Regions from separate parts of the Homo sapiens genome. Here region 2 is linked to region 1. Evidence: fine-mapped expression QTL. A gene starts in region 1. The other region holds a variant in brackets. All regions are shown on one strand. Distances are from middle to middle.

Region 1 (11,387 bases):
GCATTTGCCATGGACAAGATGCCAGGACCTGTATGCTTTAGGATGAAGTTCTCATTATTAAATTTCTCCCCGTAGATGGACTTGCCACCAGTGCCATTATGGCATGTGAAGTCACCACCCTGACACATAAACCCTGGAATAATTCTGTGAAAGAAGGGAACACTTATAATCCAATCCTTTCTCTCCAGTGGTCAGAGCATGAGTTTTCTGCTGTCTTTGGAAACTTTTCTGCAAACTGCTTGAAGGAGACACGGCCCAAGGGCTCGCCGTCAACCACGATGTTGAAGAACACGGTGGGGTTCACCATGGTTGATAGTACAGGGCTCCGGCAGTGGTGTCTGCAAAGCCAGTGTTGTAGGTTTTAAATGAGCATCAGCACCCTGGCCTAGGGTGTTGTTAAGTGTGCCACTTCTCTTGTCCTCACATTCATTTGTCATGTATGGGGATTAGACTAAATGATCACAAAGGCTTGAGTTTACTATTCTGTAATTTCCATGTGACTTATTAATTAGCCTTATTATATTTAATACAATTGTAGTCATTATGAGTGCAGAATAGAGGATCAGACAGATGTTATTCCGTGAATATAACTTTAACACACTACTGGTGCTGAAAATTCAAAATTATAAGAATCTGAATATTGCTTTTTCAAGTGACTACTCCAAAAATAGTTGGCCAGTGCCTTAACCTGTCACTATCTGAACAAATGGAAGAGAATCCATGTTAGAAAAAACTACAAGTGCTTCATCAATACTAGAAAACAGAGTAAACCTAAAAAGGAAAAGTAGAGGTGAAAGCTCCATCTGGTGGTTAACATCTACAGTTCCAAGAAATTGACATTATACTTCACTGACTGTAGTACTGGAACCTCAGTTTAGAAATACCTGTGGGTTCTGAAGTAGGAAGATTACTGGCTGTTACGTATTAACTAATATTTAATGGTGGAAGGCAAAGTCTTTCATAGGGTGTTTAGAATACTTGACTCAAGATAATCCCTGGGAAAAAAGTTGCAAGGTCAAATATCTTTAAGAAATGTTCTTGGCTATACATGTCTTTATTCGACCACATAATCTTTCCCTCTCTTTTTAGTCTCTGGCATTTTAAGAAATGCCAGTTTGAGGAAATAGTGAACTTAGGAGTATTTGCTTTTAAAAGACTTTCTTTTGAAGGGAGCTTATATGAGATTTTATATTTTTTACAATCTCTTAGATGTTCTGACCTTCCTTTCACAGGAGTTAAAAAAAATTCCATTCCCTTTCTACTCTTCCTCAGGTTGAAACCTCGTAACCAGCATACTGGAAAAAATTATAGGTGTGGTAGTTCATACCTATAATCCCAACACTTTGAAAGGCCAAGGTGGGAGGATCCCTTGAGTCCAGGAGTTCAATTCCAACCTAGGCAGCATAGCAAGACCCCATCCCTATTTAAAAAAGCAAAAAAAGCCCACGCCTGCAATCCCAGCACTTTGGGAGGCCGAGGAGGGCGGATCACGAGGTCAGGAGATGGAGACCATCCTGGCTAACTCGGTGAAACCCCGCCTGTACTAAAAATACAAAAAAATTAGCCAAGCGTGGTGGCGGGCGCCTGTAGTCCCAGCTACTCGGGAGGCTGAGGCAGGAGAATGGCGTGAACCCGGGAGGCGGAGCTTGCAGCGAGCCGAGATCGTGCCACTGCACTCCAGCCTGGGGGACAGAGCAAGACTCCGTCTAAAAAAAAAAAAAGAAAAAAAGGGCCAGGTGCGGTGGCTCACGCTTGTAATCCCAGCACTTTGGGAGGCTGAGGTGGTCGGATCACTTGAGGCCAGGAATTCAAGACTAGCCTGGCCAACACGGTGACATCCCTGGAATTATAGGCGTGAGCCACTGCGCCAGCCTGACTTTCATCTTTTTTAAAGCATAGCTTGGAATAATTGATCAGTAAGGATGAAATAATTCTATGGATGATGAAGTAGCAGAACGTTTCAACATACAAAAAAAAAAATTAGTAAATCCCACTATGTGTCCTAGATGTATAAGGGTCCAATGGATCTATATGGGAATTGTAAATAGAATGAGTTTTATTCTATTTTTTAATTTTATGTATTTTATTTTTGAGACAGAATCTCACTCTATCGCCCAGGCAGTGGCACAGTCATGTAATGGCACCATCACGGCTCACTGCTGCCTTGACCTCCCTGGGTTGAGGTTACTCTCCCACCTCAGCCTCCTGAGTAGCTGGGATTAAAGTCACACACTACCACGCTCTGCTAATTTTTCTATATTTTTGGTACAGATGGGGTTTCACCATATTTTCCAGGGTGGTCTTGAACTCCTGGGCTCAAGGGATCCTCCCCCTTCAGCTTCCCAAACTGCTAGGATTACAGGTGTGAGTCACCACATCTATTTTTTTAGAAAATAAATTTTCTCTTTGTTGTTTGGAAGACTTCTACGAAGGAACAAAAAATCATGAAATATCAATCCTTAAGAGTAGAGCCCAAAAACAAAAAAACAACCCTGAAAGGCTAAAGTTGGGTCCAGTAGATCCTGATCCTGATAGTATATCCAAGGATTAAAGCCATTCATCATTTTTTTTTTTTTTGAAACGGAGTCTCGCTCGGTTGCCCAGGCTGGAGTGCAGTGGCGTGATCTCGGCTCACTGCAACCTTTGCCTCCTGGATTCAAGTGATTCTCCTGCCTCAGCCTCCTGAGTAGCTGGGATTACAGGCGCCTGCCACTGCGCCTGGCTAATTTTTGTATTTTTAGTAGAAATGGGGTGTCAACATCTTGGCCAGGCTGGTCTTGAACTCCTAACCTTGTGATCCACCTGCCTCAGCCTCCCAAAGTGCTGGGATTACAGGTGTGAACCGCTGCGCCTGGACTTAAAGTCATTCATCTTAAAGCACATAAAGACAGATGCAACTGAGTTTGTTATGCATCCTAACATCTATTTCATTGTAATAGGGAATTAAAACCTTTGATCAACTGAAAACAAAGGAATGATGAATTTTTTTTTGTTTTTTTTTTGAGATGGAATCTCGGTCTGTCGCCCAGGCTGGAGTGCAGTGGGGCGATCTCTGCTCACTGCAGGCTCCACCTCCTGGGTTCACGCATTTCTCCTGCCTCAGCCTCCCGAGTAGCTGGCTCTACAGGCGCCCGCAACTATGTCTGGCTAATTTTTTGTATTTTTAGTAGAGACAGGGTTTCACCATGTTAGCCAGGATGGTCTTGATCTCCTGACCTCGTGATCTGCCCACCTCGGCCTCCCAAAGTGCTGGGATTACCGGCGTGAGCCACTGTGCCTGGCCAGGAATGATGAGTTTTTGAAAAGACTTCATTGAGCTGGATGGTAAAGATGCCTTTCTGGGAACCATGAAATGAATGAATCTACCAAAGGTACTATGCTTTGATTTATTCCTCGCTGGATTCCAGGATTTCTGTGGATCTTCTCATCAATGTTGCTATGGTCTGAATATTTGTGTCCTACCAAACTCATAGGTTGAAATCTTAACTGCTAAGGTGATGGTATAGGGAGGTAGGGCCTTTGGGAGGTGAACAGGTCATGAGGGCTGGCCTCTCATGAATGGGATTAGTACCCTTGTAAAAGAGACCCCAGAGAGCTAGCCAGCCCCTTCTGCCATGTGAGAACAAAGAAGGCACCATCTATGAATCAGAAAGCAGGTCCTCACCGGACACCAAATCTGCTGGCATCTTGATCCTGGACTTCTCAGCCTCCAGGACAGTCAGAAATAAATTTCTGTTGTTTATGAGCTACCCAGTTGAGGGCATTTGTGTTAGCAGCCTAAATGGACTAAGATCTTTTTATCCTACTCATTCTTAGATCTTGTCGCTTTTGGTGGGTGTACTTATTCCACCTTTATAACAACACCTCTGCTGTGTGCTGTTAAGAATCTTCATTAAGGTAGCACCTTGAACCTACTTTATTTGGAAGCCTACACTAATTTTTGGCTTTCGATTCCCATTGCCCTCTTCAGGATTGTATTACAATTTGACAAGCAAACATCCTCTTCCACCTTCCAAAACAACTTTAGTACACACATTATAGAAAGGGAAATATGTTTGGTGCTTTTTTTTTTGAGACAGTCTCACTCTGTCACCCAGGCTGGAGTGCAATGGCGTGGTCTCGGCTCACTGCAACCTCCGCCTCCCGGGTTCAAGCAATTCTTCTGCCTCATCCTCCCGAGTAGCTGGGACTACAGGAGCGTGCCACCACACCCGGCTAATTTTTGTATTTTTAGTAGAGACGGTGTTTCACTATGTTGGCCAGGCTGGTCTCGAACTCCTTACCTTGTGATCCGCCTGCCTCCGCCTCCCAAAGTGTTGGGATTACAGGCGTGAGCCACCGCGCCCAGCCTGGTGCTGCTGTCTTATTTCTCATGAATATGAGCTTTCAAGGACAGGGACTTGATCTTTTTTTCCATTCCATAAAATGTTGATATGGCTAAACTTTGCAGGCTTTTAGGCGTTGTCATATATGCAATTAATTCCATGGGCACTTAATTTCATTCCCCTCACTGAAGGAAGGGGTTGTCTGAGACCACCAAGCTCTAATGTCTTACCAATCTGTTGCTTTCTCATTTTGTTCAACTTTTTTCTTGGAAAGAAAAACATTGAACATATCAAGATGAATCAGCCAAATATTGTACTGTGTGTGTGTTTTGGGGGTGGGGGGAGACAGAGTTGAAGTGGCAGAGGCAATGTAGGAGGAAAAGACAGGCTGACTAAAATACATAAATAGTACGTGAATTCTTTCGGGCCAGGGATCTGGGCCTACTTTGCCTGCATCATATTACCAGCATCTCAATTGTGTCTGGCACATAGTAAGTTTCAGTAAACATTTGTTGCACTAAGTGAAAGAATGAACTTTTCACTTTTTTCAGAGATGTGATTTGTGATTCTCGGAATCAACCAGGGTCCTAAGATGTCCTGGAGGCCGTCTCCATTTCTCTCGGTGAGCTAAGGTGTCCGAGTGGCACCAGTTCTCCACTCTTTCTGCGACCTGCAGGGAGTGGGATACGCTGTGGCTTTAGGGAGCTGGGAAAGGCGCTCTCTCCCGGTCCCGCTCTGCCCGGTCCCACGCCCCTCGGCCGTCCGGCTGCCTGGGTCTTCCGGGTTCTTCCGCCCCTCTGGCTCGGTCCCCGCTACCTCTCCTCCCTCCTCCCCTCTCGGTACCTTCGCCCGCCGCGCGCCTTTCTCAAATCCTCCGGTTATTAAGCAAGCTCAGGGGTCCGGTGGCCTGCCCTGGTAACTCTGCGCCCGCCCCTTCCTGCCCCCTTCCTGCCCTCACGCCCCGTCCCCTCCTCTTGACGTGGCAGAGGCGGCGCCAGCCATGTTGGCCGGGCGGAGGTCTTCGCTGAGGCCCGGGGCGGGGTGGCGCCACCCCTGATTGCGGTGCCACGGACTGCTCCTGCTGGGCGGAGAGGACAGATTTTGCAAAGCGGAGGCTGCGACGGGTCCTGCAGGGGGACAGTGAGGAAAGGGCCGCCTCGTCTCCGCTCCTGGGGGACCGCAGGTGCGCAGCGGGGAGCGGGGGCGGGCTGGCGGCGGCGGGCTGGGGGCTGGGATCCTGGGGTGGTCCCGGCTCTGCCCTCTCGGTGCCCCGGGGCCAGCGAGGTGTGCTGGAGGCTGAGGCCCGGTCCGGCGCGGGGAGCGTTGAGTGCTGAGCTTGCCACCCTCTCACCCACTTCGCTCTGCCGGGGCCGGGGGCCCGGCCTCCTCCAGCTCCCCTGGATTAGGTGGAAAGATGTGGAAAACGGTGGTTCGAGCATCTCGCCCAGCACCCACCCCCACCTCCTGGGCCACCCACCTCCACCCAAGTCCATCATCGCCTCTGGGCCCTTGGACTTACTGTTTCATTCCTTGCCAGATATGGAGTGTCCTAGACTTTGAACCCAATTGACTACGTCACCGTAATTCAGCCTTGGAAGTTAAAGGGGTTAAAGGGGAAAAGAGCTTGGTAAAGATAATGCCTTGGGTTTTGATTACAAAGAGTTCAGTTTTCCAGCAGGACCAGCCCTATCTCACTGGGCTTTCTTTCTACGGTAGGTAGTGTTTCCCGATTTGGTGGTAAAGGTACTGCCTGAGGAAGGTCATAGTAAATCTACATCAATCACTGAAGTGGGGATGTGGAATTCTCGTTTTCACTTGAACTCCCTCAACCTCTACCGTCCAAAGCCATGGATAACTAGCCAAATTAACTTGGTTTAAAAAGGTTTTAGATTTAAATATAAATGCATGTTGAGTTTTCCTTCTCTTTCTCCTCTGGTAGTGAATGAACATCATTTCAGAAGTCCAGCTATTTTTTTTTTTTCTGAGACGGAGTCTTGCTTTGTCGCCCAGGCTGGAGTGCAGTGGCGCAATCTCGGCTCACTGCAACCTCCGCCTCCCTGGTTCAAGCGATTCTCCTGCTTCAGCCTCCCGAGTAGCTGGGATTACAGGGGCGAGCTACTATGCCCGGCTAATTTTTGTATCTTTAGTAGAGACGGGGTTTCACCATGTTGGCCAGGCTGGTCTCGAACTCCTGACCTCAGGTGATCCGCCCGCCTCGGCCTCCCAAAGTGCTGGGATCACAGGCATGAGCCACTGCGCCCGGCCAGAGTCCAGCTATTTTTAATTGACTTACAGAATTTTAGAGTTAGATGGGACCTTGTGATTTTCTAGTCCAAGTCTCTTATTTTGCTGATGAGAAAAACAGGATTCAGAGAGGTTAATTGTCCAAGATCATAAGAAGACAATTCATTGAGGATTTTGGAAGTGAAAAGTAGGAGACAAATTTAATTGGCAACTAACAAATACATGTAATTGGAAGGAACTCAAATTTACTTGGCAAGTACATTTTCAATTAGATATGAATAAAAGGGCTTAAAATTAGAATATTGAAAAACTATCATAGGGAAAGTCTTTTTTGTTTTTTTTTTTTTTGAGACGGAGTCTCGCTCTGTCACCCAGGCTGGAGTGCAGTGGAACGATTTCGGCTCACTGCAACCTCCGCCTCCCAGGTACAAGCTAAGCTATTCTCCTGTCTCAGCCGCCTGAGTAGCTGGGACTACAGGCGACCGCCACCATGCCTGGCTAATTTTTGTATTTTCAGTAGAGACGGGGTTTAACCATATTGGCCAGGCTGGTCTCGATCTCCTGACCTCATGATCCACCCTCCTCGGCCTCCAAAAGTGCTGGGATTACAGGTGTGAGCCACCGCGCCCGGCCAGGGAAGTCTTACTTTTAAAAGACTTGGGCACATATTTGATATACTAGGTTAAAGTGACATAGTGGTTTGCTTCTTAGCTTTTAGCTCTATTATGATAAATTATTTAACCAAAGTATATTGTACTGAAATTGGACATTTCTTTGTAATAGTCTTTTGTGTTTTGTATCACTTTTTAAAAAAAATAAAGACTAGTGGCTGGGTGCGGCAGTTTACGCCTGTAATCCCAGCACTTTGGGAGGCCGAGGCAGGCCAATCACCTGAGGTCAGGAGTTCGAGACCAGCCTGGCCAACGTGGTGAAACCCCATCTCTACTAAAAATACAAAAATTAGCTGGGTGTAGTAGCTCACGCCTGTAATCCCAGCTACTGGGGAGGCTGAGGCGGGAGAATCGCCTGAACCCGGGAGGTGGAGGTTGCAGTGAGCCGAGATTGCACCACTGCACTCCAACCTGGGTGATAGAGTGAGACTCCATCTCAAAAAAAAAAGAGACTAATATGCTAAGTCTGCATTCTAATATAGTGTGTGGAATAATATTTCTTTGGTTTAATACTTTTATGCAAACATGTTAGTATTAGGGGAGAGAGTGCTTATCAAATAATATCATGTTATGAAAAGCTAGTTTGTGGCTGGGCATGGTGGCTCACACCTGTAATCCCAGCACTTTGGGAGGCTGAGGTGGGTGGATCACCTGAGGTTGGGAGTTCGAGACCAGCCTGACCAACATGGAGAAACCCCATCTCTACTAAAAATACAAAAATTAGCCAGGTGTGGTGGCTTATGCCCGTAATCCCAGCTACTCAGGAGGCTGAGGCGGGAGAATTGCTTGAATCCGGGAGGAGGAGTTTGCGGTGAGCCGAGATCACGCCATTGCACTCCAGCCTGGGCAACGAGCGAAACTCCGTCTCAAAAAAAAAAAAAAAGTTAAGTTGGCTTGTAAAAGGACTTTATTTCAGATATGCCATTGTCGGACATGGGACTAAGCCTGGCAAATTTTGTAATTGAATTCGTGATTTTAAGATTGCATGACTCCTACTATGGAAAGGTGAGGGAAGTCAGGGAAGTGTTGTGCATAGCCATGTAATTGGACCAATTGAGAAACAGGTGGGATTTTCTTCAAACTACTGCTGGAATGTGGGAATGTAAGAAGTATAATAGATGTGATTTAGCAAGCAAATTGATCTTAGAGCAGGGAGATTGAGAGGAAAAAATGTGAAGAAGAGAAGAGAGTTGTGCCCAGATATCACTCAGGTGATATTTAGTATGTCTTAATAAGAAGTAAGAATGTAGAGATACAATCCAGCCTTTTAACCAGTTGTAGAAAGTTAAACCTGGCTATTGTCTGTGTGTGAATGTCTTCCTGCTAAGACTCCTGGAACCTTTCTTAGTGAGGTTTCCTAATGGTCCTAAGGCAGTGGTTTTCAGAACCCCTAACTTAAACATTATTGAGTATCCAAAGAGAAAAAAAAAAGGCTAAATAGAAGACAGGTGGGTTTTCATATCTGTTTCTGCAGTTTATTGTGATATATTGTTTTGGTTGAATTGTATGAAGGATTAATTAATAAATTAAAAGGTTAATTGCAGTGTGGAATCTGAAAGCTTAGGAGTGACCTTTTTGTACTTTGTTACCTTAAAACTCATTGGCCTATTCTACACTTTGAATGGATCATCTACCCATGTGTGATATTTTCATATCACAAATTGACGGTTTGGAAGATATTGCTTCACTGAGTAATGTATATCTTCTAAATGTTAATACATTTTGTTATATACTATCAAACAAATTACATTAATACCAACACTGATCTCATCAGAAAAATCTTTACATATTAGGAACTTGTCAAGCTTATGGTAGCAGGCACAAGTTTTAAAACAATTTAATGGCGGGGAGCGGTGCCTCAAGCATGTAATCCCAGCACTTTGGGAGGCCGAGGCCGGCGGATCACGAGGTCAGACAATTGAGATCATCCTGGCCAACATGGTGAAACCCTGTCTCTACTAAAAATACAAAAAATTAGCTGGGTATGGTGGCACGCGCATGTAGTCCCAGCTACTTGGGAGGCTGAGGCAGGGGAATCGCTTGAACCCGGGAGGCAGAGGTTGCAGTGAGCTGAGATTGCCCCACTGCACTCCAGCCTGGTGACAGAGTGAGACTCCGTGTCAAAAAAAAAAAAAAAAAAAAAAACCCAAAAACAATTTAATGTTTGCTTGAAAGCTCAAATTTTTATCATTGGCAAAAAATACTATAAGTTGTTTTCTATGAAGTGATAGGTTTACTTCATACATTTTTGAGAAAATATCTGTGTAATACCTAAGTACTAGTTATGTACTATCCTTGGGAGAATTGAGAAAACAGTCATTGAAAACATTTTTTGTTTTGTGTTTCAGCTATTTTAATGCCTTTTGCAGATGTGTTTTAGATGCATTTTATTTTTTTTTTTTGTTATGGCACATTAGAATTTTTATTTTTTCTTAATAACACTGGATTTCTTATGACTTATTTTTTGTCAAATGTAGTCATCCCTGTTCTGATTTCATTTTATTTTATTAAATTTTTTTTTTTTTTGAGAAGGAGTCTCACTCTGTCGCCCAGGCTAGAGTGCAGTGGCATGATCTCGGCTCACTGCAACCTCCACCTCCCGGGTTCAAGTGATTCTCCTGCCTTAGCCTCCTGAGTAGCTGGGATTACAGGCACTCACCACCAGCTCAGCTAATTTTTGTATTTTTGGTAGAGATGGGGTTTCACCATGTTGGCCAGGCTGGTCTTGAACTCCTACCTCAAGCGATCCGCTGGCCTCAGCCTCCCAAAGTGCTAGGATTACAGGCGTGAGCCACTGTGCCTGGCCTTAAAATTTTTTTTATTTTTAATTTTTGTGGGTACATAGTAGGCGTGTACATGCTTCTTAAATTATAGGAGCAATTAAGTAGTAAACACAATTTTATTTGCCTTATGTTCTGTATAATAAATGTGGAAGAGGTTTGCATAGTCTTAGAATTTATATTCACATCAGTAACATGGAAGCTGTTGCTAAAAACTGGATTTCTAATCTCCCCCTCACCCCCACGTCCTGGTTGTTTTTTCTTTATTGCCACCTATGTTACGGTGGAGTTTGACATCTTCTAACTCTCCTCTGAATATCCCACACCTTTGTTTTATCATTATCTTTCAACACTTTTCCTTGAAAGCTCATACCACCCTTCTCAAAGCTGCCTTCTATATTTACCTTCAAAATAGTTTTGTTTTTTTTTTTGAGATGGAGTCTTGTTCTGTCGCCCAGGCTGGAGTGCAGTGGTGCAATCTCAGCTCACCACAACCTCTGCCCCCCCAGTTCAAGCGATTCTCCTGCCTCAGCCTCCTGAGTAGCTGGGATTACAGGTGCATGCCACCCTGCCCAGCTAATTTTTTTGTGTGTTTTTAGTAGAGACGGGGTTTTGCCATGTTGACCAGGCTGGTCTTGAACTCCTGATCTCAGGTGATCCACCTGCCTCAGCCTCCCAAAGTGCTGGGATTACAGGCTTGAGCCACTGCACCCGGCCCAAAATAGTCTTTTCTAAACAAGTTTAGTCTTGGGATTTCTCTTTACCCTTTATGCACCTTTGAAAAACCACAATCTTTTTTGATTAGCGTAAGATTTTCTAGCTGTCTCCAAGATTCTGGCACAATTGGAGGAAATACAGTGTTTTCTTTAATTTTTATTTTCTTATTTAAAGAAGAGAAAGTTCTTAACTGCTTGGAATGCTTAGATTTGTTAAGCTTCACTTTCTGCCATTTGTTTTATGAAAATTTATTTGAAAGATTTTCTAAAATTAAAATTGTTATATCTAACTTTTTCCCCCCAAATAATATCTCTTCTTTCTTCACTTAAATTTTAGAATCAGCTTCTTGTCCCACTATTGCTCTTAGCAACTTTAAACATCCATGTTGGGTTTTCCAGGCACCCTAGGTTCACAGTTCACTTCTTTCAACTTGACGTCCTTCCTGTCTGCTGCATAACACTTGAATGTCTTTGTCCTCCCACACCTTTAAATTCTTCAGCTTCCTTCCATGACTAACTACTGTTGCAGTTTGAGAGCATGAGATAGAGCTGTTGCCTACGTAGGAAAGCCGGCATCCTACCTAGGCATTTAGACAGTAAAAATGGAGCTGTCTTTTGATACTGGTCCCTCCCCAGAGTGCATCCTCTTCC
Region 2 (11,387 bases), 900 kb after region 1:
ATTATTGTATTTGTGAACTAATCTATGAACAACAAAAACAAACAAACAAACAAAAAGGGTGGCATTTCTGGGCCACCAGGAAGGTGGATTGGGGTTGCAGCTATTTTCAAATTATATTAAAAGCAGGATCCCAGTTAGAGCGCTATCTTCCCCTCAGATCTCAATTTAATGTAAATATTTCCAAAGAAAAAGGAAAACTGATATGGGCATGAGATCACTTTAATTTGCAAAAAACGCAGCCAGTGAATAGTCAGGACTCAACAATCTTCTTGTCTTGTTAAAAACTTTTTAGGTTCACATGTCTAAAACCTTGAAAAGATTAGGAAGAGCTTGTTTTCTCCCTACAAGTTACCTGTCCTCCAGCCCTCTTTGGTTACCATCTTTCCTATGCCTCTGTGATATGAACATTTATAGATAGAAAAGAAGGAGATGTTTTCCAGAAAGGGGAAAATGAAATGTTCCAATTTAGGAAGTTGCAGATTCTTGAGCAGACTGATTTTCTTCCCTCACTGTAACTTTCTCCTACAAGCTATACTCTCCTGTGCTATCATGTACCAGGTGCACACTTTGATTATTATATTTATCACACTGTACTGTGGCTTTTTGTGTACTTGTCTGTACCCTCTTATAAATTTGTAAGCTTGTGGAGACCAGGGGCTTGCATTTTATTTATTTTTCTATCCCCAGCATCTAGTGCAGTACCTACAAAATTGCCCCAAATCACCTTGTTTTATTTTGTCAAGGCATCCCATGGATAGTACTTTCCTCTTTTCTAGATTATAAAATGTAGATGCAAAGAAATAAACTGTGAGCTCCTTATAAGTAGAGCTTTACTAGCTGAGGAATATCATCATGTGTATTAATTCCTTATACACTTAAATTATTCTAAATAATTTCAATTTGCATGTCCTATATCAACAATTGTCATACTGATGACTCATTCATTGATCATTCTTGGTCTTAAATTTCTCAGCAGAGAAAGGGCTCTGGAAAATGGGTAGTACATGCATTAGTAGCTAATGATGGTTATTTAATAGTGTCATGCAGTGTGAAAGTCATCATACATGGAAGATCATTTCCTTTTAATAGCAGTTTTGAGCCTCAGTTCGTTTGGTGGAATAGTAATTATCAGCACCTCAACTTCTGCTTATGTCAAAATCATTACTAATGTGGTTTTTCCAATCAGAGCCTGTGTTGATCCTTAAATGAGCATCTCTAATTCATACCAATGATAAAGGGCTGGCTGGAGCCAGGGATTAAAGGGTACACTTCCTGGAACATTGTCTGCAGCAGCAGAATCAGTGTCAGGTTTACAAACACCTGTCTGGACAGATGGGACCAAATTGAGTATAAGGGGCTAACACCACTCAGCAATATGGCCTACAGCAAAGGTTGTGTCACTTAAGGACCATCTGCCACTAAGCAGTTAACATGATGTCAGTCTAACGAGAAAGTTACCAGAGCACAAATGTGGCTATAGGGCTAAGAAACAATCCTGGACTTCATTTCTCAGGAATACCCAATCACAGCAGCCTTGGTAGCCTGTGGTTTAGTTCATCACCAACCTCAGCAAACTCACCCTGGCCCACTGATTTTCCTATTGCCTCTTCTGTGAACAGCATGACAGAGTCTTTTTTTGTGCTTTTAGCAAAGACCCATATGGTGTAACAACTCCTATTCTTCCCTATGTTTTCTCTACTACAAAATAATATTTCTAAAAACAAGAATTCAGCACATACAGGAAAGTATTCATTACAAATAATGGAAACATAAAAGCAGAACAGGAGCACATTCATGTTATCTGTATTATTTTGAATAGTCCTTATCAGTAATACATTTTTCTGTAATAAAGTCTGTTAGTTAAGGATTTTAAGATGGATGCATTAGTTTAAAACTATTGTCTCGAAATCTTTTTTCTTTTCTTTTTTTTTTTTTTTTTTTGAGAACGAATCTTACTCTGTTGCCCAGGTTGGAGTGCAGTGGCATGATCTTGGCTCATTGCAACCCCCACCTCCTGGATTCAAGTGATTATCTTGCCTCTGCCTCCTGAGTAGCTGGGATTACAGGCGCCCATCATGCCCAGCTAATTTTTATATTTTTAGTAGAGATGGGGTTTCAACATGTTGGCCAGGATGGTCTTGATCTCCTGACCTCATGATCTGCCTGCCTCAGCCTCCCAAAGTGCTGGGATTACAGGCGTGAGCCACTGCGCCAGATAATTGTCTCAAAATCTTTAAAAAAATTTTTTTGGCATTTCTCTTTTTAGCAAAAATCACAAAGAAATGCTTTCAAAACCACAAACCATATTTTTGTTTATTTTGATACTTCAATTTATGTTTGATTTTGAGCAGAGGATTTAAATACTTAGAGCAAATCATTCATTCCTTGAGAAAGGGCTGTTCCTTTGGAGCGGGCTATATCTGTCAATCAGCTCCACCAGCCCAGCAAAGAGCTAGGGTGTGAAAGGAAAGCCTGTTTTGTAGATGAAAACAATGTAAGCATCTAAACGCCCACCACCATGATACTGCCACTTTGTTCTCATTTTAAATATGTTGAGGCAGGAGTCTAGGTTCATGTTTCAACAGCCAAAACACTTTTATTTAGACGATGAAGCAACTTAAATGATTGATCTTTTCTCCCTTTCTGTAATTAAGTTGGAACTGGTCATTACTGGTTCTAGGTTGACAGTCTCTCCATCTCCTTGTCTTCTCCTGCTGGAGGCAAAATGGGGGGCTGTGTCTGTGAGCTGTCAGACTGGAACTCAGAACTACCAGGAGTGGTCCGGAAAGAGGTCCTGGATCCTCACCTCACTGTCCCCTCTTGAGAGTGGACTGCCTCTCCTCACCAGCACCTGGCCCTGCCCCTGTCTCCTTTTGCCCACAGCATGGAATGCTACTTTACTTAGTCCTTGAGGAAGTAGCCCGTGCTACTACTTTCCTACAGCCTGACATCTCCTTTCCTGCCAGAAGAAGGAAGTAAGAAGATAGCATAGCCTAGGTGGGGACACCTGGCCTACACTCCTTCTTTGTTGACTGTTTGGTTGAGCCAAGATTTCGCTGCTTATGCCATTAGCCAATGCAGTGGTTTCTGATATTATATCCTAATTTTAAAAAATTATTTGTATGTGTTTTATTTTATGGAAGTAAAATTCAGACTGCAGTAGAAAAGATTTATTTCCAGTTATTTGCCCCATTTCTTAGTTAAAAGGAAGTGGAAATTAATATCAGAATTCCACTATGTATGAGTAATGTGTGTTTTTAATTGTAACTTAGTAATTTAGCAAATACTTAGGGAATGCCCACTGGGTGGCAGGCACTGTTCTAGGCACAATAGATATAATGACAAATTAGATTAATTTTCTGTGGAATTCTAGTAGGGCAGAAAGACAGTAAACAAGTACAGGTACTGTAATTTCATTTCGTGATAAGTTCTAAGAAGATAAGTGGGGGTGAGAGGATACAGAGTGCTGGAGGGGTGGGTGCACTTGGTATAGATTAGATGGAAAGGGAAGGAAAGAAGATGTTTGAGCAGTTATGAATAAGGTGAAAGTAAAAGGGCACATGTCTGATGAAGGTTGTTCCAGTCAAAGGCAACAGCGCACATAAACCATGGGGATTCTGCAGATGTAGGTGTTGGCATGCTAAAGCTACACATTCCCAATTTTAACTTACTTACCTACTTTCTACAGTCATAATTTAGAGAACATCTCTAGGTGTAAATAATTATTTATTTTGATCAGCACCTCATATAGAGAATACATGAAGATCCTGTTCTTTCCCGCTTCTAGCCACATCCTTCCCGGCAAGGGAAGGAGTTCCTGCAGCCAACAAGTGCCCAGTCTGAGCCCGCAAGCCACATCTAGCCCATACGCTAGATCACAATCTTCTAGACTCCATGACTCCCTGCCCAGAGGCTCCAAACCCACTTCCAGGGAAGTGTGAGCCAAATACATGGCCAAGAAGAGGCTCAGAGGTGACTAGGAGAGGATGTGGCAGATGAGTAATGAGCTTGGCCATAGGGGTTCAGGTATCTGTCCTAATGTACATGAGCCTATTCACTGGGCAGGACAAAGCCAGGAATGGAAGTTGAAGTAGGACAGGCTACTGGTGGGGGCAAGTTCCAGGGTAGAGCTTGTGAAGAGGGCTAGGAGTCTAAATTGGACTCTGTCTTTCCAGGTCATAATGAAGATAGATGATAGGCTATATTTTATTTAACGGACTCTGAGCTTGATTGATAACTTTCAAGGTAAGCAAACATGCACACCAAACAAAACAGTTGGGCCTTTGGAAGAACTTGAAGCACAGATGTATAACCCAAGCCACCAAGAAGATGGAGAGAGGATGCCACACCACTCACTTTATTCTTTTCTGACTACCCCGTTGGCCTTTTTCATTCCAAAATAAAATTTTGCTCTTCCCCCAGTCAAAAATAAAAATGTTATATAAATAATGATGTAAATACACACACACACATTAAATGAACATATATATGCATAGGCTTGAAAGGACAGTTACTAAGATATTAACAGTGGTTATCATCAGGTAGTTGGGTTGTGAATGCTTTCTTCTCCCTTTTGCAGAGATTTTCTAATTCTTCAGTCATAAGCACGCATTGCTTTTTAAGTAAGATAAAAGCAATAAAAGCTTTTTATACCTTAAAAATGAAAAGACTCCAGGCCGTAAGTGTCTGTTCTATTTAATATAACATTTGCTGATTTATTTTCTCCTCAATTATTTTTACTTTTAGAAAAACACTAATAAATTTATTCTTGAAATTAACATGTTGTGATGTAAGTTAAATGGCAAACAAAACATACCCGTCAGAAGGTGGTAGAAGGAACTGGAACAGGAGCTACAACAGTCTATTATTTTCTAGGCAGCCCCTATCATCCCATAGCTAAGTGATTCATTGAGTATGCTTGAGTCTGATATGCCTATCTTTTGGAATTGCTTTATCATTGCTATATAATGTGATTTATTTGTGACATAAATCACAAGATAATGTTTGTGAAAGCAAAGTGTAGTCTAATACCAAACATCAGGGCTTACATCTCATATTTTCCATGACTTTAACCTTGTGCTGGTTGTTTGATCCCTCTGTGCTTCATTTTCCTCATTTGTAAAAGGAAGTAACAGTGCATCTATCTTGTAAAATTGTTAAAAGGATTAAATACATTAAAAGTGTTTAAAACAGTGTCTGGCATATAGTAAGCACTATGTAAATATTTAGCTATTATAAAATAATTTCTGAGGTATGGGTTACAATGTAACACTGTTTTTGAATTAGCCCCAGACTTGAAAAATCCAGTTTTGTCCCTTGCTTAAGAGCTTAATACAGTAGGTCTGACATTCACTTCTGCAGTCTAAAAAATACTGACAGTTTCTATGTGTATGATACTTACCCTTTCTTTTTCCTCCTGCCTATCCAGTTGAGTCCCATAATTCCAACACTGTGAACTATGTTCCATTCACCAGTTTTTGGTACATGACACACCCTCAGCTAAAATAACTCTAAGTTATTAATCACACCTATCTACGTCATACTGAAGTCAATCTAGTCTACCACATGGTAAGGATTCATACTAATCACTGAACTCACTGACTCAAATAACCCAAATGTTTGAATGTTACATATGCACAGTCTAAGTTGAACTTAACTTTTATTTTGTCTCAATTTCCAGTGAGGCCCCAGGCTCCCAACCTGATGACTGCAATTGGGAAATGTATCCACTTTCTAAAGAGAGGTGCTAGTCCACCCCCTTAGCCCATTGCCTACCTCCATATATGAGAGTAGAAAGGAAGTTGATAGTGATTAATTCCTTAGAGACAGTTCTCAGAGTGCTGTGCATTTTTCTTCCCACAAAAGATGGAAAGTGGGTGCTTACCCCATCTGTAAACTGTGGAGGCTTCTATAAGACCACTTAAAGAGCTTGGTAGTATCCCTGAACATTTGACAAGACACAGAGACTGATGTCTGATTCTTACCTGGAAAACTTAAAGGTGAA[G/C]AAGCGGCCCAGTGGGAATTGCTTCAGGTGGTAGAGTGAAGAGAAAAGGCTATGGAGGGGGGTGCAAAACGCTGGTTCCCACTGAAAGTGGAGCAGAGGCGGTGTTTCTCAGGCACTGGCATGGACAGTATGGCAGGCAGGCAGGTGGGAGCCCCGTGATGGGCCTGCTCTCCACCCCAGGATGAGAGGACGCTCAGCGGGAAGTTCGTGAAGCACAACAATCAACAATCAGTAGCTGAGTGGGGAATGCAGCCAGCTGGCCAAGGATATTGGGCACGCCATCCAAGGGCACAATGGGTGGTCTCCAGCAACAGAGTGGGCGATGCTGAAGAACCCACTGAAGAATTTCAAAGGAGAAAGAAGCACTCACAGAGGGCACAATGCATGATTATAACTGCACCGCTCAAGGAAGAAGTTGGCTGTCCCCAAATGATTTTCCCTCTCCCCTGCAGGAACCAAAGACAGAGAAAGGGGTGAGGGAGGTAGAGTAAAAAAATACTGCAAAGACATGATAAAGAATTAACCGCTTCCCTCTTCCCTACTACAGGATCCAAGCATAGGTCATGCTGGAGCTGGTATAGGGACAAAGAGATTTAAGTTCAATGAGAAATGAAAGTTTCAATTTAAAAAGGATTTTTAAAATAATGTCTGAAAATAAGACTGTTAATGTCTGAAAGTGAACAAAAAAAGCTGTGGGATCTGTGTGTACTAAGTACTTTCCATTTACGGTTTCAGCATATTTAACCCTTCCAACTACACTATGAGGAAGCTTCTATTTACTACTCTCATTTTGCAGATGAAGAAACCAAGGCACAGAGAGGTTAAATAACTGGCTCAAAGTCACACAGTCAGAGCTCGAATTTGACTCTAACAATCTACCCTAAGGCCTGTGTTCTTAAACATCATGCCACACTGCTGTGGTCTTATCTCTTACTAAACTCGATTCAATTAAAGTGTGGTTTTGAGACCACGAAATTACATAAATAGCAAATTTAAGTCATTTTTATGTTTTATGCATTCCTCAATGAATCCAATAATTGCCTCAGTCTTCTCCTCTATTCATGTTGCCTAATTATTTAAAAGTAACTAGACCTCATCAGAAATTTGGAGTGACATGTTTTGAAAGAATTTAACCTTAAAAAATGTTATTATAAAAGTATTAAGATTGATGAGCCATTGGTATTTTGGTACCAAAGAAAATGCATTTTCTGTTAACAACTGACCACCATTTCCCAGTTCTAAACATGTGACGATCAGTACTGCAGGCAGCTTTGTGCTGTCTTCTGTATGAGTATTTCTCTGTAGTTTTTTCCTACACCATTCCTGTGGTCTTGTCATGCCTCATCTTTGCCCCACCTCAGGAAAATGGATATCCAAGTGGTGGGTCAGCAGAGCCGCTAGGTAGAGGATAAATGAGCAATAGCTGCTTTGAAGTGATTTGTATTGATGCCACAAAATCCCAGCCAAAATGTATTCCCAGGAAAGGAAGAGGGATTGCTGCTGGAACAAAATCAATTAAAATAAAATTTCCCCTTCCCTAGAGCAAGTGTGTGCCCATTTCAACTGGTTTAGGGACTTTGCACTTGGACTTTTGTTGATTTGACTAACAGTTTTAACAGATGAGAATACACAGATGGCAGATTCACTCATGTGGGGGATCATTCTTTCCTAATTGAAACATTATGCCTCTCTTCACTAAACAATTAAGTAAGAAATTACCATGTTTAGTCCATTAAAATGCCTTAACTTAATAGAGGATAATGACACACAAGAAAAACTTGTAAAACTCAATATTCACACTTGCACATAAGACTAGAGTAAACCAAAACTATTCTACTTTAGTTTTAGAATTTTTTTGATGGCAAGCTTTTAAATGAAATTGCATTTTTTCCCCTCTGAACTTTGAGATTAATAGGTCTTATTTTTCACACATATGAAATTTTTAGCATTTTTTTTTTTTTTTTGAAAATTCTATTCAGTTTTACTTGTGAAAACACATGCTCTGAAAATCCACTAGGGGGAGATTTTAACATTGAGAACTTTGATAGGGAAAGTTTCAGATTTTATACAGTTGTATGTCAGTTGACAGCTGGAAAAACTTAAATTTTGAACTAAGCCTTGATTATAAGGTTTACATCTTGATAAAGCTACCCAAGATATTCCAGCTATATTAAAACCTGGACTGAGTGGCTAGGGAGAACTGATGAAATATTACTCAGGCTTGTCAGAGAATGCATGTGGAGGCTGTGTGTTTGGGGAAGGAGGGGGATTTGGGTGTGAACAGGATGAGACCTTGTGTCTCTAGGGGTTGAACCAGATGAAAGAGTAATCTCTGGCCATTGCCACTGTGTATACTGTTAGTAATTTCTGGTTTCCACTGATGCATAAAAGCTTGATTTGGTTCCTTGGGGAGGCTGAGTCTTAGAATACCACTGAAATTCTCTGTAACATGATGAAAGAAATGAAAAATATATATAAGGGATATTTTTTAGATGACTTGCCTTATTTGAGGAGGCATGGCACTTTTGCAGAAATCTTCAGATAACCACCACCACTGTGGTCCAAGCAATAACAACTTGATGTCATCGAAATTCCAATAAAATTTAAAATAGATAATCTCTATAAAGCATCCTGTGATAGGATTTGACATGTGATGTCTTTTCCAAAGCTTGACTAACATGTTAACAAGGGAAGGTTTTTTTCTACTGTCAGCAAAACACCTGTAGTTTTGTAGAGTCTTTTCCCCTAAAACTGAGAAATAGGATAAAAGAGTCATTGGTGCTGATTCTAGCGCAACCACTCCCCTTTCAGCAACTTACTATTTTGAGAGGTGATTTTCTACATACAAATGATGTTGTCCTTTCTGCCAATAAGTGAATTTTTTCATCCTCTTGGGTCATATACTTATATCATTTTCCCCATATTGTATAGCATCCTTTAACATATTATGTAAGGATGTTTTTTTAATGCGCGTCCGTGTGAAGAGACCACCAAACAGGCTTTGTGTGAGCAATAAAGCTGTTAATCACCTGGGTGCAGGCAGGCTGAGTCCGAAAAGAGAGTCAGCGAAGGGAGATAAGGGTGGGGCCATTTTATAGGATTTGGGTAGGTAAAGGAAAATTATAGTCAATGGGGGTTTGTTCTCTGGCGGGCAGGAGTGGCGGTCGCAAGGTGCTCAGTGGGGGTGCTTTTTGAGCCAGGATGAGCCAGGAAAAGGACTTTCACAAGGTAATGTCATCACTTAAGGCAAGGACCAGCCATTTACACTTCTTTTGTGGTGGAATGTCATCAGTTAAGGTGGGGCAGGGCATATTCACTTCTTTTGTGATTCTTCAATTACTTCAGGCCATCTGGACGTATACGTGCAAGTCACAGGGGATGCGATGGCTTGGCTTGGGCTCAGAGGCCTGACATTCCTGCCTTCTTATATTAATAAGAAAAATAAAACAAAATAGCATTGAAGTGTTGGGGCGGCAAAAATTTTTGGGGGGGTGGTATGGAGAGAGAATGGGCGATGTTTCTCAGGGCTGCTTCAAGCGGGATTAGGGGCGGCGTGGGAACCTAGAGTGGGAGAGATTAAGGTGAAGGGAGGTATTGTGGTAAGGGGTGATATTGTGGGGATGTTATAAGAAACATTTGTCATATAGAATGATTGGTGATGGCCTGGATACGGTTTTGGATGAATTGGGAAACTAAATGGAATAACAGAAGGAGAAAAACAGGTATAAAAGGTCTAAGAATTGGGACGACTCAGGATATCTGATTAGAGAGTGCCTAAGGAGATTCGGCATAGTCCTGCCAGCAAAGATTATTTATTTATTTCAAGAGTTAAGAGTGGCAGTTTGGGGATAACACCAGGAGATATCAGCTGTGATGGCTTGGAAAAACAGTGTAAACCGGCAGTGTAAACAAGAGCAGGGCATGTATGAGTAGTTGAGAACGGTGAATAGGAGTATGACTAGACAGAAGATAGCAGGGATGACAAGTTTTTTGGGGGCACAGTCTAAGTTGGTCTGGTGTCTGGAATGAGACTGGGGCCTAATAAAAAGGAGTGTCTATACAGGAGCTTAAATGGGCTGTACCCTGTAGCATTCCGAGGACAGGCCTGGATTCTGAGAAGGGAAAGTGGTAAAAGTATTGTCCAGTCCTTTTTAAGTTGGTGGCTGAGCTTGGTGAGGTGTGTTTTTAAAAGACCTTTAGTCCATTCTACTTTTCTTGAAGACGGAGGACCGTAAGGGATATAAAGGTTTCACTGAATACCAAGAGCCTGAAAAACTGCTTGGCTCATTTGACTAATAAAGGCTCGTCTGTTATCAGACTGTATTGAGGTGGGAAGGCTAAACTGAGGAATTATGTCTGACAGAAGGGAAGAAATGACTGCGGTGGCCTTCTCAGACCCTGTAGGAAAGGCCTCTACCTATCCAGTGAAAGTATCTACCTAGACTAAGAGGTATTTTAGTTATCTGACTCAGGGCATGTTGAGTAAAGCTAATTTGCCAGTCCTGGGTGGGGCAAATCCTCAAGCTTGATGTGTAGGGAAGGGAGGGGGCCTGAATAATCCCTGAGGAGTAGAATAGCAGATGGAACACTGAGAAGTTATTTCCTTGAGGATAGAATTCCACGATGGAAAGGAAATGAGAGGTTCTAAGAGGCGGGCTAGTGGCTTGTACTATAGCATAACCTGCCTTTGCTGGTTTGTGGCGATTAGGCCATCAATAAATCCAGCGTGATCAGGGTGAGGAACAGGAAAGAAGGAAATTTGGGGAAATGGTGTGAATGTCAGGTGGATCAGAGAGATACAGTCATGGGGGTCAGGTGTGGTATCAGGAATAATGTGGGAGGCCGGATTGAAGTCCAGGCCAGGAACAACGGTAATTGTGGGAGACTCAATAAAGAGTGAGTATAGCTGAAGGAGCCGGGAAGCAGAAAGTATATGCGTCAGGTATGAGGAAGAAGATAGATTTTGGAAGTTATGAGAACTGTAGAGAGTGAGTTGAGCATACTTTGTGATTTTGAGGGCCTCTAAAAGTATTAAAGCAGCGGCAGCTGCTGCACGCAGACATGAGGGCTAGGCTAAAACAGTAAGGTCAAGTTGTTTGGACAGAAAGGCTACAGGGTGCGGTCCTGGCTCTTCTGTAAGAATTCTGACCGCACTAACCATGCCTAGGAAGGAAAGGAGTTGTTTTGTAGAAGGTGTTGGGGTTTGAGAGATCAGTCGGACACGATTGGCAGGGAGAGCACGTGTTTTTTTATGAGAATTATGCCGAGATAGGTAACAGATGAGGAAGAAATTTGGGCTTGATTGAAGTAATGGGGGCTGTCTGTGAAGCTTTGCGGCAGTACAGCCTAGGTAATTTGCTGAGCTTGATGGGTGTCAGGGTCA

Alleles and levels. Positions count from the first base shown, and alleles are read on the strand shown. Sizes are in standard deviations (SD) of each study's normalised expression.
With allele G in place of C in region 2, the expression in monocytes after LPS of the gene that starts at base 5,305 in region 1 is lower (large effect, 1.1 SD a copy in Quach 2016).

What was found. PIP is the estimated chance that this variant, and not a neighbour inherited with it, causes the effect.
Region 2: its variant is fine-mapped to the expression of SEC23A in monocytes after LPS (Quach 2016, PIP 0.95).

Annotation. Positions count from the first base shown.
Region 1 is chr14:39,097,153-39,108,539 of GRCh38, reverse strand. It overlaps SEC23A (SEC23 homolog A, COPII component), which reads left to right and starts at 5,305. Exons shown (of 20, transcript NM_006364.4): 1 at 5,305-5,508. It overlaps SEC23A-AS1 (SEC23A antisense RNA 1), which reads right to left and starts at 5,400. Exons shown (of 2, transcript NR_146545.1): 1 at 5,169-5,400; 2 at 4,728-4,995. It also overlaps the pseudogene PPIAP4. RefSeq lists silencers at 5,090-5,319, 5,480-5,599, 5,620-5,699.
Region 2 is chr14:38,194,109-38,205,495 of GRCh38, reverse strand. No RefSeq gene overlaps it. Among named protein-coding and RNA genes, the nearest start is that of SSTR1, 8.1 kb to the left of the region's middle. RefSeq lists a silencer at 1,898-2,192 and enhancers at 5,668-6,168, 6,169-6,669, 8,844-9,832. The variant G/C (reference allele first, on the strand shown) is at 6,005.